Linked DNA regions of Homo sapiens. The protein of the gene in region 2 interacts with the protein of the main gene of each other region in a biochemical or structural test. Each region holds a gene or a part of one and is shown on either strand. Other genes may lie near its edges.

Region 1 (7,035 bases), on a different chromosome or scaffold from region 2:
TTATGAAATCTATAGCTATAGCTTCTATAGATTTAACTTATAAAGATATTTTAAATCACATAATACATAATCAGTCTCCAATACCCTCTTCAAAATAACTTCTAAAAGTAGCCCCAAATAGTGGTGATCCCAAGAAAGAACTAGAGCCGGGCACAGTGGCTCACACCTGTAATCCCAGCACTTTGGGAGGCCGGGGCAGGCGGATCATGAGGTCAGGAGATCGAGACCATCCTGGCTAACATGATGAAACACTGTCTCTACTAAAACTACAAAAAAATTAGCCGGGTGTGGTGGCGGGCGCCTGTAGTCCCAGCTACTCGGGAGGCTGAGGCAGGAGAATGGCGTGGACCCAGGAGGCAGAGCTTGCAGTGAGCCAAGATCACGCGACTGCACTCCAGCCTGGGCGACAAGAGTGAGACTCTGTCTCAAAAAAAAAAAAAGAAAAGAAAAGAAAAGAAAGAACTAGAATAAGGAGATCTAGATTCTAATACCAACTCTGCCATTTATTAGTGCTGAGATCTGCACACCTCTGCTAAATATTCAAAAGGTTTAGAGGAAAATAAAAAACAAAAAGATGATTCCAGAGTTTAAGGACAAAAAGGATCAGACTATTATAGAATGCTGCAACATAAATTCTTTAAAAAAAGAAGGATCAAAAACAAAATAAAATTTTAGAAAATTAAAAAAAAGAAGAGCAGACTAAAAAGAGATGATGCTGTGATGGAAAACCTAGGAAACCATACTATAATGGACAACATTTGAAAATAATGGTTCTTTGGGGGAGTAAAGGATTTTAAATAACCAATTGAGGGTTGCTGATAGTACAAGCAACAAAACAAAATAGATAATGCATTGAAAATGTAGGCTTGAGGAAAAACTGAGATCATATAAACAGGAAAGTTCTCCATGAGAGTGAATGGAAGTGGAGAATTGAACCTTGGGGGAATCATATATATCAGTGCTTTCCAATATGGTAGCCACTAGGTACATGTGGCTATTGAGCCCTTGAAATGTGCTGGTGAGACGGAGGAATTAAATTTTAAATAAAATTTAAATGTATCCATACAATGGAATATTATTATTATTATATATATATATTTTTTGAGACACGGTCTCACTCTGTCGCCAGGCTGGAGTGTAGTGGCGCGATCTCAGCTCACTGCAACCTCCGCCGCCTGGGTTCAAGCGATTCTCCTGCCTCAGCCTCCCAAGCAGCTGGGACTATAGGTTCACACCACCACGTGTGGCTAATTTTTGTATTTTTAGTAGAGACAGGGTTTCACCATGTTGGCCAGTATGGTCTTGATCGCCTGACCTCGTGATCCTTGGCCTCCCAAAGTGCTGGGATTACAGGCGTGAGCCACCATGCTCAGCCACAATGGAATATTATTAAGCAGTAAAATAAATAAACTGTGAAGCCATGAAAAGACATGAAGAGGGCCAGGCACAGTGGCTCACGCCTATAATCCCAGCACTTTTGGGAGGCCAAGGCAGGAGCACTGCCTGAGCCCAGGAGTTCAAGACCAATCTCTATTTTAAACAAAAACAAAAGAAGAAGATACTGACGAAGAGACCTAAATGCATATTGTTAAGTGAAGATGCCAGTCTGAAAGGACTATATACTATGATTCCAACCACATGACATTCTGGAAAGGTAAAACTATGACTGTAAAAAGATCAGTGGTAGCCAGAGGTTCAGAGGGATGAGGCAGAGATGAGTAAGTGGAACATGGGACATTTTTAGGTCAATGAAACCATTCTGCACGATTCTAGAATAGTGGATGTATAATGTTATGCATTTGGCAAAACCCATAGAACTGTCCAACACAAAGGGTGAATCCTAATGTGAACTATGGACTTTAGTTAATAATGTATCAACACTGGTTCCTCAGTGATAACCAACACACCACACTAATGCAAGATACTAACAGAGGAAACCGTGGGGGACAGTATAAATGGGAACTGTGTATTTTTTTGAGCAATTTTTCTGTAAATCCAAAACTGTTCTAAAAAAAAAAATCTTTCAAAAAACTCAAATTTACATAGCCACATATAGTTAGTGGCCAGTATTGAACAGCATAGGCCCATATAAATAGACTGATGTGGGAAGAAAATGAGAATGGCATATGAAGAATTACTTCATTTCTGACTACCACTCCCAAAAGTACACATACAGTTAACCCTAAACTATATAAGGTTTTATATGTAGCTTCTATATTAACATTTTACAGTAGAACTTGATCAAAAATATTCTGGATGAATATCTTTCTAATTTTTGTTAAACAGAATTTAAGGAGGAAAATAACATTCATTAAAGGTGTCAGGTACTATACTAAAGATATTATTATTTACATTTCCAAACAACCTTTAGATAAAAGTATTACCATTTCTGTTTTTAGAGATGAGGAATTATAATGCTTAAGTCATAGAAGATGAGAACCTAGATATACTGGACTCCAAAGTGTATGTTCTATTTTTTTTAGCGAGGTCTATATTCTAATATACACCACTCTACTGTATATATGTTTATGATTCCCAAAATTACAAACATAATTTTCCCACAATGAATTTTCCATCAGGAGCAATACTTTATATATAGCACAATATAACAGTTAATGATATACTCAGAGTCTAATGAGGTGTTGTATAGGTAACTGCTGTCCCTATTTTAAACAGCCTCAGGCTAATGTGACTTTTTTCCTGCCACCCAGCTGGCCCTCCATCCTACCTATATGGCTCTACTCCAACATCTAATTTGCACCTTTTAATCTGCTGTGGGACGAGAAAATAGATAATCAAATTCCTTGAATTATGTACAAAGCAAGAGAACTTCTAAACCAATATGTTAGTGCAGATGATTTAGTTCATTAATTTTTCTGATAATTATAGGCCTTTTTTTTTTTTTTGGCCTACTTCTTAATCTAAACTGAGACCTGGACAAATTAAATACTGTTCTATAATAAAGCTAAGAATTTAGTGATTCTGTTTCATTCAAAAGTTTTCCACTACACTTTTTTTTTTTTTGAGACAAGTCTCGCTCTGTCGCCCAGGCTGGAGTGCAGTGGCATGATTTCAGCTCACTGCAACCTCCTCCGCCTCCTGGGTTCAAGCAATTCTCTGCCTCAGCCTCCTGAGTTGCTGGGATTACAGGTGCCTGCCACCATGCCCGGCTAATTTTTTTGTATTTTTAGTAGAGATGGGGTTTCACCATCTTGGCCAGGCTGGTCTTCGACTCCTGACCTTGTGACCTACCCGCCTCAGCCTCCCGAAGTTCTGGGATTACAGGCGTGAGCCACTGCACCTGGCCTCATATTTTATATATATATATATATGTTTTAATACAGATGGGGTCTCACTATGTTAGCCAGGCTGGTCTGGAACTCTTGGCCTCAAGTGATCCTGCCACCTCGGCCTCCCAAAGTGGTGGGATTATAGGTATGAGTCACCGCCTCCTAGCCTATCCCATATTTTTCATGGATATAGCTCTAAACATCACCTCATTTAAAGACATTATTTTTATTTTTGTATTTGTTGACACTATCTACTTCAAGATAAAAGTTCGGCCGGGTGCAGTGGCTCATGTCTGTAATCCCAGCACTCTGGAAGGCCGTGGCAGGTAGATCACCTGAGATCAGGAGTTCAAGACCAGCCTGGCTAACGTGGTGAAATCCCATCTCTACTGAAAATACAAAATTTGGCCGGGCATGGTGGCATGAGTCTGTGATCCCAGCTACTTGGGAGGCTGAGACACAAGAATTGCTTGAACCCAGGAGGCAGAGGTTGTAGTGAGCCGAGATCATGCCATTGCACTCCAGCCTGGGTGACAGAGCAAGACTCCGTCTCAAAAAAAAAGTTATTTTTATAATTTAAATGTATTAATTGAGTACATTAGCTTTCCACTAAATGTTAGTCTAAAAAATTAATGAGGCATATATAAAAACACAGAAACATGTATTTACAAAAAGTTGACATTTTCCTGAAAAAAATTACAGAAAACCAGAAATTTTACTGCAGAGTTCTAAATATTCTGACATAATCCTTTTCCTTATCATTTTTTAAGTTTCCTTTTTTTTTTTTTTTTTTTTGAGGTGGGGTTTCACTCTATTGCCCAGGCTGGTCTGGAACTCCTGGCTTCATGAGATCCTCCTGCCTTGGCCTCCTAAAGTGCTAGGATTACAGGCTTGAGCCACTGTACTCAACTTAAGTTGTTCTTATAACTAAATTATAATTATGTATATTAATAAAATTTTCCTTAAGGAGGGGAGATTAATAACAAAATTTTAAATTTTTTTTGTACTTAGATCTCCTATAACCCCATTAGAAATATTTACTAAGAACATAAAGTGACTTTTGTTTCTCATAAATTTTAAGATTTCAATTCAATTAGATAAAGTACCATTTTGAATTTAAGATAACAATATATTTCTAAAGCCCCAAATGGAAATGTCAATCTTAGCAGTAACTCTAAAGTCCAAGTTTATTACCCTTTATTCTAGAAAGAAAAAAAAAAACTAATTTTGTCTCCCTCAGTCAGCCAATTAAAACAATCCAAAAAAGCTTACTAAACAACTGCCTTTGTAACACTGTTCATGTTTTTAGAGGTGATCAGGTATAGGGCCAAGATCAAGGTTTCTAACACTTATTCAACAAGGGATTAAAAGCAGAGTGCCACGCAAATCAAAACTCTAAATATTCTCAAAGATTAGCTGAATAAAATAGTCATAAAGTTAGATTCACAGGGATCAAAGAGCTTCAAATTCTAAAAATCGTTTCCCAGTGTAACTTCAAATAAATCCTTTGTGAATATTCCTAGTTTCTTCTATACATTAAGAAAACCTAAAAGGCAAACAAGTTCTAGATAGGAGACCAAGTATTAGTTGTTCACATTTGTATAGAACATTAAATTTTAGTTCTTATAACCCAATGAAGAAATACAAATGAGTCTAAGAGTTTGAGCAAAACCCTCTGGGGTGATCAAAACAAAACTGCAAACTTCTATGAGTCTCAACTTTTCTTCCATAAAGAGTCCCTGGCAGCATGTCTACTGTACTTAGAGAAGCATGCAAAGAATTAGGTGGTTTTTTATTCCTAACAATCACATCCCAAAGTTTTTTCTGCAATTTCAATTGTACAGAGTACTCTTCCTCGATGTTGGCTCAAATTAGAGACAGAAAGCAGAATGGCGTTTGCTAGGGATTAGGGAAGAGGGGAATACAGAGTAACTGCTTAATGGGTACAGTGTTTCCTTTTGGGGTAATGAACACATTCTGGAATTAGAGCTGGTGGTTGAACAACATTGTGAATGTATAAAGTGCCACCTAAACTGTTTACTTTAAAATGGTTAATGTTATGTGACTTAACCTCAATAAAAAAAATTATGTTAATCTGTAGATAAAACTGACCCCTTTAGAACTCTTTTCTTGCTCAAAAAAAAAAAAAAAAAAAAAAAAAAACTGCTACCATGTTCAAATGCTATTTAGATCTTGGAAATTTTTTAGATAAAATGCACTTATAAGTTAAATTATTACCACATGTGCACAGTAATAATCAGTGAAGGTATACCAGTGTCAGTTTAAAACATTGTTATGCCTGTAATCTCAGCACTTTGGGAGGCAGAAGTGGGAGGATCACCTTGCTCCCAGGAGTTTGAGACCACCCTGGGCAACACAGCAAAATGCTATCTCTATAAAAATAATAAAAATTAAAAAAAGTAGCCAGGTAAGGCGGGAATAACACTTAAACCAAGGAGTTTGAGGCTGAAGTGAGCTATGATAATGCCACTGCACTCCAGCCTGGGTGACAGACCATGAGTGACTCTGTCATTCATTCATAATATATACATACAGCATTGCTAAAATGCTTGATAACTGTCAAAAGAATATTGCTCTGACATACATCTGCAAATAAGTAAGGTGACTTTAAATTTGAGGAAAATTCTTTCCCCAAGCCTCAATCAGGAAAACAATATAAACTAATAAGAAGTATCTAATAAACAAAAAGTAAACAAGAATATTATATAAGTAAACAGGCACAATCCTGACCAAAAATGGACAGAAATAAATATGCTAAAGTTAAGTGTCTGGGGGATGTAGGGCAACATTACTTCAGATTGGTAAATGTCACACTTCAAAAATAGAAGGAATCTACCTTAAGAAACTCTGTAGTAAGAAAACCTCCTTTGTATAAATGCCTGACAAAATTAATCTTTTATCATAACCTCTAAAGCTAGTCCAAATCCAGCCTAGATTCCAGAATTACACAAAAGAAAAAATCTTGGAGACGGTTCTGGGAAAAGGCTGACCAAAATCTGTGACTGTTTTGATACAGGCCAATCTGAGAATTTTAATCCCTCTGAACCCAATCCTGCAGAATACCTGAACCCTGAGCACAGACGGGGCCAAAGCTAAACCAGGTCAGAATACCCTGCCAAGGAACATCCTGATCTGAGGTGTTCACCAAACAGGGATCATTTATCAGTTTATTCTTCACTTTGTTGGATGCTGACCATTTTCAAGATATATGCAAGAGTGGACTGATTAGACCCATCAGAATCCATTTCAAGCCCTAAGATCTGGAGATGAAAAATACTGCAGAATTCTAAATTATCTATGGCTTAAAGAAAAAAAATTATAAATTAAGAACTTCAAATATTAGCTGACCCAACTTTAACATCATTGAATATCTTTAATTATTTAAAAAAATTTATAAAGTATTTCAAAGGCACAATTTAGTAATTGCCTATGTAACAAATTAACCATGAAAACAATTACAGCAGTATGATAAATCTGTCCTATGTAAACAGTATGAGTTTTTATATTTTATAGCATTCAGATATGCTAAAAACAAAAATTTAAGTGTTTCTTTTGTGATTCACATGAACAAATACTTTCTTGGTCTTACAAGTAGATATCTGACAGGATACAAATAATGATAATAGGGTAAGTTCACAGGCAAAAAAAGGAATCTGTCAACACAGAAGATGCTTCAAAGTTTAACTGTGACACATGTGGTAGTGGCAAAGAATCTAATTTGTGT
Region 2 (6,344 bases):
CTGCAGCCCTGAACTCCTGGGCTCAAGCAGTCCTCTCGCTTAAGCCTCCCAGGTAGCAGGTGCACACCACATGTCTGCTTTCCAAGGAGTTTTAGGTCAACCCTCACAACAAGCCTGTGAAGCAGCGATTGTTATTCCCACTTCTCTGGTAGCACACCAAGGTGCAAGGATTCCCTGTGGCTAGGTGGTTAGTAAGGTAGAATGGGGTGAGGTTTGAACCCAGTCCTGACAATCATCAGAGCTACGCAAGGCTGCCAAGAAGTAGAAAAAGATAGTGGCATTTTGGGTCCCCATTATCAATTCGAAAAATGTACAGTCTTAAGCTTGGAAGTCGGTCGTCTGGTTCAACCCTGCCTTTTGCAGAAGCAGGAGCTGGAACCCTAAAAAAATAAAGCTACTTGCCTGCAATTAAACAGGGTGAGAGGGGGCAGATGAAGTGTAGGCATGTGGGGCTGGATCTGGCCCTGCCCTGACACATAGAAAGCCTGAAATAGAAGTGAGAAAGGAAAATTCCAAGAAAGAAAAGGCAGAGAAGTGGCTGTTCTTACTCCCACACCTAAGGTGTGAATTCTTTTATTGAGTCATAATAATTTCCCGAGAATTCCGAGTCCTGCTACTTTAGGTTCTTGCCCAGGAATCCACCTCTTTTCCCCCAAGCCCAACAATCCTTTGAGGTACTCATGATTGAGCACGTGGTGGGGGGGGTGGGGAAGAGGCTGCATGGGGGTGGGGCTCCTGTGGCTTCACGTCATCCACTGTCACCTCTGGTCCCCAAGTCTCTGGATCCTTTGGTCTCACCTCTAGACAACCGTATCTTTCAAACCTTCTTCCCTGGCAACTCCTCTCTGTCCCGACAAAATCTCTCCCAAGGCATTGTCCTTGTAGTTAGATTTACACAGAGCTTTTGCTTTTATAAAGTGCGTTCATGCCCAGCTTCTCACTTGCATGTCATAGCACCCCTGGTGAGGTGGACAGGGAAGGGATGGCTCCCTCCATTTTGTAGGAAAGTGGGGGCTGCCCTCTTGATTCTTCAGTGTCGTCAGGGAATATTTACGAGCCCCAGCCTCACATGGGCCCAGCAGGGCTTCTTTAGCACAGGCTCTAGTTTTTTCTCTTGTTCCTTGGGTTTCCTAGAATCCCAAAGGACTCTCTGTGGCAGACATATTACAAATAGGCTGATGATGCATGTGTGATGGTGCAGCTGCAGTCGCCAGCTCTGTGTTGCTGGGTGGCATCCCTCCAGGCTCCGTGGCTGATCTCCCACTCCATTGTGGGCCCCTCCTGTCCCGTGCTTGCCATCCTTCCTGCTTATCATTCATTATCTAACCAGATTTCACGGGGATACACGTCTCCAACCTTCCATTTTGTCCAAATGGATCTATCTTGGTTTATTTTCTCTTGCCTAAATATTAGGCATGCCTAATGGGTTTCAAAAATTAATATAATTTATTTTCCATCTTGTCAGTGCAAAACAAAGGTGTTCTTGAGGCATGGCAGTGAAGACCAGAATCCCTCCTCCTCTTCTACTTCTGTTTCTTGAATCAGCAACAAGTAAACAACAGTTCTGTAAACATGTGTGGGTCTGTGTCCATGTGTGCGTGGATGCACCGTTTTCTTCCATTCTTAACTGGTTTCGGACACGTTAGCTACCAGTGGCCTTCTTGTCTTGTTCAAAACGGTGATTCCCGTAACATCTGGACTTTCATCAGGGCCCGTTTCAGCTGCTCATAGGTTACGAACATCACCACGTTCCAGGATCCCAAACGCAAAAAGGAGGGTGTAAATCTGATAAGAAAAACAACCAACACATCAGGTGGAGTGCTAGGGGACCACAACAGATGCGTGTGCTCTCCCGGGACACAGTGGTAGTGCCAGAGGATCCAGACTTCTGTTCATCACAAGCATTTTCTGAATCCTTTCAGTCTCTCTCTCTCTTTTTTTTTTCTGCTAAGGGGATTTAGGCAGAAGTCGGAGTAAGGAAAAGAAAAAAAAACTCACGTTTTGAGACGGGTTACTGTGTTAGGCAGCGAATTCTCACAGTTCTATAAGGCAGCCATGTTGCTGCCAGGCTCTTTTTCACAAACTGAGGCCCAGGGAGGTTAAGAGCTCAACCAAAGACCCGCGGCTAGTAAGTGTCAGAGGTGCGGTTCTAACTCCACCCTGCTGCTGGGTGTTTCTGGGCTCAGTTACACCCCGGGTGGCCAGCCCTAACATGGCCCCCTGCCAGGACATGGAGAAGCTTGGGCTTTGCAGGGTGAATACAGTGTGGCACCAGATTTAGCTCTTCTCCAGAGAGGCTGGCTGTGCTGTGATGGCATAGCACAGTGTCCCCACCTCAGCTGTGGCTCACCAACTCAGGGAGAAGCCCACGAGCTGGCCCCTGCCCCTCTCTCAGCCTGTCCCTCCACTAACCACCTCCTGGGCCCGTTTGCTCCCACCAGACTCAGCTAGTCACATTCCCTGACGATGCCAGGCCCTCTTCCCTCCATGCCTTTGCTCCTCTTGCTCCCTCTGCCTGGACTGTCCCCTCCTCTCCTCCTTCCCTGGCTGGTTGCTCTTTGCTCTGGAGGACTCAGTTTGGGCACTGTGACCTCATGCCATGGGTTTTCTTGACTCTTGTGGGGACGATAGTACTGTGACAACAAATGTAAACTCTGGAGTCAGACCTGGGTTCAAATCCAAGCTCTCCCAGTTTCTAGCTTTACAATCTGGACACATCACTTAATCTTTCTAAGCCTCAGTTTCCTTATCTGTAAAATGAGGAAAATAACAGTATCTGCCTTGTGGAGTTAGTCGTGCAGATTAGGTGAGTTAATGTTGGACAGCACTCAGCACAGGGCCCAGCATCAATACATGCTCAGTAAATACCACCAACTTATCTGCTGCTCTTTGAGGGAGGCATAACCCAGGGCCTGGCACCTACAAGATGCTCCAGAAATGTTGGACAAGTGAAAGCAGTAACTGAGACAAGTGGCTACAGCTGAAGACTGTAATGATAGAGGCACTTTTTGGAAGAACAGTCTGTCAATTGCAGTATAGTTTTATTACGTCATTCCCAGGCTTGAGAACCTATAGCAGCTCTTGTTCACTTGTTGGGTCCATTCTAACACTGGGCACCAAAAAACTCTCTGTTGAAGACATCAGCAGTGGGAGGTGAAAGGGCCAAGCTAAGAGCTTACCAGTAGGATAAACAACATTGTTGGGTGTGGTGTCTGACGGTCAGGGTTTGAGCCATGGCTCCACCATTTTAACCTGTGATCTTGGATAAGTTACTTAACTTTTCTGACACTCAGTCTTTTCCTTAGTTAATGTGGACAATACTACCCAGTTCAAGGGGCTGTTGGGATAACGTGTGTAAAGTGCTCAGCACGAGGCCTAATATAGAGTGACTTAGCTATTGTGATAATCATAAACAACCTGCATTATCGAGTGCTCACTTTGTGTGAGGGACTGTGGGAGATAAAAGATGTCTGAGCCACTTTTGCTGTCAGGAACTTGCTCTTTGCATGAGGAATAATTTAAGCTTACAAATACTATAATACAAGGCAGGAGGTGATAAATACCATAAAAATGGTATCAAATGGCATTGCAGAAGTTCCCAGGGAGGAGGAAAAATTTACACCTGAGAGTGTTAGGGAGGAGGTGGCATTTGAACTCGTCTTGAAGGATGGCTAAAATTGACAGCCTGTAGATGATGAGGCATTCCACGCAGAGGGAGCAGTAAGTGCAAGAAAACGTGGAGCGTGTGGAGACAGTGAGGAAGGCACTGGCCATGGTCAGTGTGGTGCTCAATGGCCATGGCAGGAGGTCCAGGAGGTCTCAGGATTGCTAACTTCCTCTGGAGACAGGCAGTACTTTTACCTATTCCTGGAGTGTTTGTTCTCAGTCAGGCTTCCCTAACCCTCCCCATCAGGTATGGTTCACTTTTTTTCTTTTACTTGCATGGTTTTTTAAACTTCTTCTTTGTGGCATTTACATCTGTACTCTTCACCGCTACATCCCAGGTTGACCCACGGTAGCCACATTCGAAAAGAAAGAAGCCCCTGTTCTCTGGGAGGGAGTGCTGGAGGCAGGAGGAGGCTCACCCCTTGTAGAAGGCTGTGGGGCCCTCCTGGGCCACCATCTTTATCATACAGTCGAGGGGGCTGAAGTACTGGCCTGGAGGTGAGTTCATATACCGGGTCTTCACCACGTCCACCGGGGAGGCCACCACTGTGGCACAGAAGCCGGCTCCAAAGGCAGAGACAAAGTGGCAGGGGAAGTTGTCTGCAGAGGAAGGACAAGCAAATATCAAGGAGTGCATTTGTGTTCTGTCCATATGTATGCACTGTTTGTCCCCAACTCAACCGTGAACTCCCTGAGCATAGGACAGTATTTTCCATATCTCTCACAGTGCCCTGGGCTAAGCTCTTGGTAAGTACTGGCAAACTAGGCCTGGGCTGACCCAGAGGTGGGAGGTCATGCAGGCTGTTTGAGGAAACTGAAGTCGGAGAAGGTGAGAGACCCCTGCTTAAAGCTATATAGTGAGAGGTGGTGCTGGGACTGGAACCCAAGTCTCCAGCCTCCCAGCCCAGGGGTCTTTCCTGCTTGTCACCACAATGTACCTGGCACTTTTTACTAGGCACTGCTTCTCTCTCTGCTCCTTCTAAAACCCAGTTGCCTCTGGGTGGTGCCCACTCCACGGAGTTCTGGGTTCCCTCCCTGCTGAGGGAGAGCTGCCTGCCTGGAGCCCAGGGCCTCACCAGTGAGCAGGTGGTAGTCCAGCAGCTTCTCCTTGAGGATGTCGTAGGTCACCACCTCAGCACAGTTGACGATAGCATTCCTCATGATGTTGGGCAAAGTTCCTGTTAGGAAGGCGGTGGGGAGGGATGTGAAATGGGTGGGGAGGGAGGAATGGGAAATGGGAGAAATGGATGCCCTGGCTGCAAGGCCACAGGCCCCAGTTTTGGGGCCATAGTGCCCCATTCCAATGGTCTCAGCCAGAGGATCCCACCCCAGCTGAGCAGATTCCACATTTTCCTTTCTAGGGTTAACAACTCTCAGATTATCCATGTTTTCCTCAGAGACAGAGAACAGAGAGGCCCACTTGTGTTCATTTGGCCACATTTGGAGGGTGATCTGCAATAGCTGTCAAAATTAAAATATGCTTCCTGGAGACCCAGCTGCAGCCAGAAAAGAAAGTCATTCAGCGAGAGGCTGAGCTCTTGGAACAGTGACAGAATGTGGTGCCAGCAGGGCCCTAGGAAACTGTCAGGATCAAACCCCTGGTTTCACAGGTAAGGGGACAAGCTCTGAAGGGTGCCCAACAAGTGAGTGAAGAGCCCCAACTTAAGAGGTGTCCTGCCCTTAAACTTCACTGGGTCAGTTTCTTCTGCAAACGTTCCTGCAACCTCTGGTTCACATGCGGAGAGAGTCCTGCATTCATCGCAGTGGCTGCCATGTGGACACATAGGGAGCCCTCCAGCTTTGCTCCCAAGGAAGCGCTTCCTCGTTGCATCTCCCTGCGCCCACTCCTCACAGCTGTGCTTTTCTGATGCTCCTCTTTTTCCTCCGGACCCTGCTTGAGGGCCCCTCCCCTTCCGTCTCCACACACCTAGAGCCTGTTCAGTCTTCCAGGCCCAGCTTAGGTGTCACCTTCTCTGCAGAGCCCGCCTCTGGAGCTCCACCTCTGGGGCAACCCCTACCACATCCTGCCTGTGGTGTAGCTGCATCTTATCTCCTCTGCTGTCCTCATGCCCTGGGCGTGTGAAGGTGTCTTAAGTTCATTTCTGGCTCCCTCACATCAACCTGCACATGGCAAAGGGCTGGTAAAATGAACTGAGTTTGAGGGGCTGTGGCAGGTCAGTGAAGTATCTTTGGTTGTGATGTTCTTTCAGAATCACTGGAACACGCCATGCTGGGAGTCCCCTCCTTACTGGGGTCCCTGCCCCAGCCTGAGGGGAGGGAAAGCTCTGCCTAAGACCGCCTGCGTCCAGAGTCCAGACCTACCTTTCCACAGGCCCCTGACTCCTTCCTCCCTGGCGATGGTTCTGTAGGCGTCCATAGTCCCGCTGTATTTTCTGTCGCTCCTGGATGGCCCGAGGTGTATGCTGGCCTGAAATCGGACCTTCACCACATCTGTGGGCTGGGCACAGGTCACCGCCATGGCTCCTGTGGTGCAGCCGGCCAAAATCCGGGTAGTGAGGCTGGAGTCTGGGAGGGGCAGAGAGAGTGGGCCAGTGTCCCCTACTAAGCAGCATTCTGGGACATGCTGTTCTCTGCGGGGCTGCCCCTGCAGCTTCCTTGATGTCCACTCAGAGCCTCCTCATAAGCGTCCGGTACCAGCTTCCCCCCGCCCCTGGCTC

Evidence for each region.
Region 1: the proteins of UCP3 (region 2) and RC3H1 form a complex in vitro, tested with the Homo sapiens proteins (one study listed by BioGRID).

The regions. Positions count from the first base shown.
Region 1 is NC_000001.11:174,012,358-174,019,392, forward strand, and holds part of RC3H1 (roquin-1), read right to left. Parts: intron 1-7,035. UniProt on the Homo sapiens protein: Post-transcriptional repressor of mRNAs containing a conserved stem loop motif, called constitutive decay element (CDE), which is often located in the 3'-UTR, as in HMGXB3, ICOS, IER3, NFKBID, NFKBIZ, PPP1R10, TNF, TNFRSF4 and in many more mRNAs.
Region 2 is NC_000011.10:73,999,742-74,006,085, forward strand, and holds the end of UCP3 (putative mitochondrial transporter UCP3), read right to left. Parts: intron 6,193-6,344; coding exon 5,989-6,192; intron 4,845-5,988; coding exon 4,743-4,844; intron 4,267-4,742; coding exon 4,086-4,266; coding exon of another isoform or gene 4,082-4,085; exon of another isoform or gene 1,999-4,081; intron 1,786-1,998; coding exon 1,671-1,785; 3' UTR 536-1,670; downstream 1-535. UniProt on the Homo sapiens protein: Putative transmembrane transporter that plays a role in mitochondrial metabolism via an as yet unclear mechanism.